Linked DNA regions of Homo sapiens: region 2 is linked to region 1. Evidence: fine-mapped expression QTL. A gene starts in region 1. The other region holds a variant in brackets. All regions are shown on one strand. Distances are between the middles of the regions. Region 1 holds the start of LINC01616 (long intergenic non-protein coding RNA 1616). Region 2 holds the start of LOC107984321 (a long non-coding RNA gene).

Region 1 (2,931 bases):
GTGGTGTCAGCATAACCTAATGCTTTATCAGGGGTGTCAAATATGCAGCTCAGCTCCTGTGAGGATATTTTCCTTCCCATGCCCAGGAGAGAGATCATTAATCTAATGTGTCACTCTCGTCAAGCTCAGACCATAGCCTTGAATCTTTCTATAGACATCCCTTTAGATATTGAAGAACAAATGTATAGAGTTAACACAAAAGGCAAACCTTAATTGTTATCCCAGCCTTAAACAATTAAAACCCCTTCTGAATCACTGATACATTTTCACATAGAAAGTCAGTTAAGTCTTTGTCCTCGGCTGAGGACATGAATGTTGAGATAGGGAAGGGGTTAAATGAGGTCTAACTAAGCATTCCACATGTGTATTTCCCATTCAATATTATTGCTTACAGAACAGAGATCTAAACTCCCCTACCAAGGACCTCTCAAAAGGCCATGGGATATTTTGGACACATAGCAAGTGTCAAAGCATATAGGTATTTGCTATTTTATTCTGAAAATATGTTTGTGTATCTCTCATAGCCAGGAAAAAGTATACAATGAAAAATAAACAGATTATTAGTAATATACAAGTAGATCATCTGGCTTGTATAACTACTTACTCAGCTCCAACTTCCAGTGCCCTAAGGTGAAGCCTCTCTAAACACCTTACCTCCAGGCCAGGTGGCAGAGGTTATCTTTAACACTTTTCACCTAGGAAAGCACTTAAATACATCTGGAGCCTTACTGCTCGAAGACTGCTAAAACACCAGTAGCATCAGTATCACCTGGGAACACGTTAGAAATGCAAAATCACTGCCCCCATGGAGACCAACTGAAGTAAATTCCGCATATTAACAAGATACCCAGCAAATGTACAGGCATATTAAAGTTTTAGAAGCATTAACTATACTCTTAGAAGCCCAGATCCAAGAGCTATTTCATAGAATTTCAAAAAAAATTCAAGAATGCTTATTTCTAATCCTGTAAATATCATTGACCAAATTCTATGAAACAAAAATCCAATAAGATACTCTGCCAAAAAATAAAAGGAGGAGGGGTTACATTTAAAAATGTGAGAAAGTCCACACATCATCCTCATGGAAATTCACTACACACATTAGCAGATTGTAGGCTCTGAGAAGTACCACAAAGAAACTAGTTTTACTGTTTAACTCAAAAATTCAAAAACAGTTCCTTTTTCAACTACTATTAACTGCCTATAGAGATCCTCTGAGAAAACTGCTACAGATTATAATTCCCTGTAGCATACATATATATATATATATATATATATGCACACACACACATATATATATATGCAACACAGGAAATATATATATACGCACACATATATATATGTGCAGCACACAGAAACTTGTACTACCTCATCCATGGGATCCATATTATAAGACAGAATTACAGTGAAGTCCTTTTGCTATATCTGGTTAAAACTAAAAAAGTAAAAGAAAAATGAAAATCTTGGTTAGGGCTCCAGAATTACCTGTATCAAAGTGAATTTTTGGTACATTAGATGGTATTCACAAGGCTCCTGTATATTTGCCTAGAGTCAAAGTACAAACAGGGACCTAGAGTTTGAAACTGACTCATTTTAATATAGCAGCACATCCTAAAAAAGATTTTAATGCCTTCAGCTCATGCTTTAGAGTTAGAAGTTCTTGGAGTTATTGTATTGCTCAAGATGATTCGCAAATACTGAGAACAGAATTCTGCCCTCACTTGTGACTATTTTATATCATTCACAATAAGAACATAATTGCTGTATTAGTCTGTTTCACACTGCTATAAAGATACTACCTGAGACTGGGTAATTTATAAACAAAAGAGGTTTCATTGACTCACACTTCTACATGGCTGGGGAGGCCCCAGGAAACTTACAATCATGGTGGAAGGCAAAGGGGAAGCAGGCACCTCCTTCACAAGGCAACAAGCAAGAGTACATGCACGCAGGAGAAACTGCCATTTTTAAAACCATCAGATCTCGTGAGAACTCCCTCACTATCACGAGAACAGCATGGGGAAACTGTCCCCGTGATCCAATCACCTCTTACCAGGACCCTCCCTCACCATGTGGGGATTATAATTCAAGATTGGATTTGGGTGGGGACACAGAGCCAACTCATAATCAATTACTCCCTGAAAACTGCAATAAATAAATAAGTCAAGTACAGGGTATGATCCAACACTCATCTGGACTAACCATCCCATAACACCCACATTCATATATTTAAAGAAAGCAGATAGAACTTAAATAGGGTAAAGCCACAGCGGAATGAGAAACTGGGTTGACAACAGGATGAAAAAAACATTCCAGGTCCTTATACTCCCCAACAAATCATCCCACCCCAACACATGTCAAAACTTGGTTAGATGGATTCATATATATTCTTATCAAATTCCCAGTTTCCATCTCTTCCAAAAGACATATTGAGTAGGTTCTAAAATTTCACAAAGCTTCAATAGTTTGTAGACTTTTACTTTTATCTTCTAGACATTTAGCCTAAAGCAAAACTTCAACCTGTTGTTAAGAGTAGCCAGGGCCCCCAGGGGAATCCTGTATCTTTGACCCACGCATCACTCATCTGCCCACTCACAGATGAGCAACACCTGATCATAGGAGCATGCGTAAACTCTTTTTCTCTTCCCACAAACCTCTATTTGTTGAAGTCCAAATGCAGAGACAGAAACAAAATAATGACATGGGTTCCTTTCTGGAAAGGCAGATGTTTCCTCTCTTAATCTTCATCACCAAGATCTTGCAAACAGTGAGTTAATGGTAGAGGATCTCTTTAATGAGAATTCCCAGCCAAGAATGGAGGACCAAGCCATGTCCGCATACAATTGCTATATCCCAAACCAAAAATAGAGGCCCTGGGAATGTTTTATTATGAGCCAGGAAGAAAAAAAAGTACAATCACATTGCCGAAGT
Region 2 (2,931 bases), 37 kb after region 1:
GTCTCCCTAGACACCTCTCCCAGCTCGCCCGATGGACCAAGCAGGCAGTGGCAGCGCTATGCCCCGGACTGCTGGAGCAAATCCGACCTTGGGCTGGTTGGTTGGCGCCAGGACTGTCACTGTCGTCCTCGGGGCGGCAGCTTTGTTCAAGGGCTCTATTGGGCCTCCTCCTTTTGTGATGCTCAATTAATTATTAAGGGAAATATTCCCGAGCTGAATTATAGATATGCCTTGCACTCACTCACCTAACCGTTGCGGGCTCGGAAAAGGACACCTGGAGGGCTGCTTTTTGTTGCTGTTTGATTTTTCTTTTATCTTTTCAAATAACCGGACACACACACACAAAATCGAATTGTAATCAGTGTGAAAGAAAAAGAAGAAATGAAACCTGGAGTGCACCCTGGTTTTTCCAACGTCTTTCAGCTAGTGCAGCTTGAAATTTTGGCATGAATAAGTTTAACTGTAACCCCCTGGCCTCAACCCTGGTGGAGCTGAGAGAAAGGTATCTTCATGCTGGCTCTAGAGACGTTCTTTGCCTCAATTTATTCCCTACTGCAGTTCATTCGAAGAGCAGCAAGACCGGGTTTCTCTAAAAGTGAGAACGATCATGCTCACTCGCCTCAAACCCTCTCTGTACCTCCACAATGTGATATCACTGTGCAGTTTCATAAGTACCAGAAGCAAATAACTGGTAATATTTATTGTTGGCTCATTAGAAGGATATTTCTTGGGATAGTAAAAAGCAGGACTGGGACCTGTTTCCCAAAAGCAGTTTATGAGATCAATCCGGTACAGCTATGCAGTGCTTTCAGGGAGATGAAAAGTGAGATGGAATGATGTACTAGAGATGATAGTTGTATTGAAGCTTGGATATTTTAATTGAGTCGTGTTTAAACTTTATGAATTATGCTTCCCTTTTGCTGTTTGTTCCTATCCCAGATAATTTTAAAGTTTTCAATGCCTGAGGACTTTAATATTTGCATTTCTTAGGTGTTGGTAATCTGAATTACTAAAATACGACAGGAATGCTGCTGAGGAAAAACTCTACTCTCAGGAGGACTTGCGCAAGGCAGGTAAGATTAACTGAGTGTCTGCCTCCTACCTGGCTCTGTGCTAAGTTCTTTGAATGTATATTATGTAATTTTATTTGCATAACTAAATGCTTTTTTATGTGATAAGTACTATTATAACCACTATTTTATAGAAAAGGAAATGAAGGCTTACAATGATTAGCTAACTTGCCCAAAGGTTATATAGCTAATTATGTAGCAGAACAAGGCCTTACATATCTGACTCTGCAGTGTAGACTGACCCCGTGCTAGTGATGTGGTCTATGCCCATTTGTTCATACAAGCTAGTGGCTGTCACAGATGCATATACAGATTATGAAGCAAGGGGATTTGTGTTATGATGGAGGTATGAGAATGTTGCTCCTTGGTGCAAAGAGTAAAGCAGCATCTAGTGTGGAGGCGGTAAGCAAGAATTCCCAAGGAGAGAGAGCACTGTCTGAAAAATCATAAGAGTTGGAGTGGCCGCCATGGAGAATGCACAGGCACATAGTGCTGGGATGGAACAGAAGCAACTAACTGGAGCTAGAGATAGGTTAGGACCAACTGGGAAGAGCATGCCCCCTCCCAGCCTTCTCCCACCACATGCACACACACACCCCTACCTCTTTGCCCATTTAAATAATTAATTCATAAAGCAAACAAGAAACATTCTATTTCTCTCCTTGAAATTATCCTAGGAATTTCTAGGAACCCATAAACAGTAGCAAAAAGATTCTTTGATTGAGACCAATAAAAATCTACCTTGTCTTAGTCCCCAAACCTTGTTTACTTTTTATTTTCTTTTGAAATGGGTTCTCA[T/C]TCTGTCACCCAGGCTGGAGTGCACTGGCATGATCACACCTCACAGCAACCTCAAACTAACTGCTGGGCTCAAGTGATCCTCCTGCCTCAGGCTCCAGAGTAGCTGGGACTACAGGTATGTGTCACCATGCCCAGTTATTTTTATTTATTTATTTATTTTTAGTTTTTGTAGAGACAGGGTCTCATTATGCTGACCAGGTTGGTCTCAAACTGGCCTCAAGTTCTCCTCCTGCCTCAGCCTCCCAAAGTGCCCACCACGATTACAGGTATGAGCCACTGTGCCCAGCCCCTCTTTTCTATAAAGAGGAAAAAATTATTTTCTTGCCTTTCTTAGTCATCAACTAGTCAAAATTCTTTAAGCTCTCCACCACCAAATACACCTATTACCACAAAGAATGTATCCCTGGCTTTGAATTCTCTCAGTGGTGGTACAAATGTTCCAGATCACACCGTGAAGCCTTTGCTTATATAGAAAGTGGCAGAGGCCAACAGATCGTCTCTGTACAAAGCACGATAGGAAGCCCTGTGGGATACAAGCTAGGCCCATTATAAATGTTTTTGTTCTCTTTGAGGACTGTGGTCCACAGTGAATTGCAATGTTCTGTTTACTCCTCTATCTCCCCAAACATGCCTGTGATACTTCACTGAGAACAGACATTATATCCTGAGCAACTAGCGTTGTACTTGACCCAGAGTAGAATGTGAATGAATAATGGAAGAGGCTTCCCTTTGCCAAGAAAGTTCAGTGAATGTGTTGTGAGAGAACTAGAAGATTGCTTTTTCACCTGCTCACCCCAGCCTCTCAACTATCTATCTCACTTTTAAAGTTCTGAAGTGATGGGCGTGGGGGTGGTGAGAAGGCCTTGGAGATTTGGTTCCATGCTCCCATATCCAAATTTATGGATGGGGATATTTTGATCAGCCCATCATTCCTTATAAAATGTGAGTCACTCAGCTAGTTTTTTCTTGGGTTTTTCAATGACTGTTCACCACCACTTCCTAATTTATCTTACGCATATAGGCACTGGTCAAAACTTAAGATATCAGAAGAGCATATTTGTTT

What was found.
Region 2: its variant is fine-mapped to the expression of LINC01616 in lung (TOPMed, PIP 0.95).

What each region holds. Positions count from the first base shown.
Region 1 is chr11:29,981,172-29,984,102 of GRCh38, forward strand. LINC01616 (long intergenic non-protein coding RNA 1616) reads right to left here and starts at 1,222. Exons shown (of 1, transcript NR_132652.1): 1 at 1-1,222.
Region 2 is chr11:30,018,612-30,021,542 of GRCh38, forward strand. LOC107984321 (a long non-coding RNA gene) reads left to right here and starts at 1,953. Exons shown (of 3, transcript XR_001748159.2): 1 at 1,953-1,983. The variant T/C (reference allele first, on the strand shown) is at 1,869.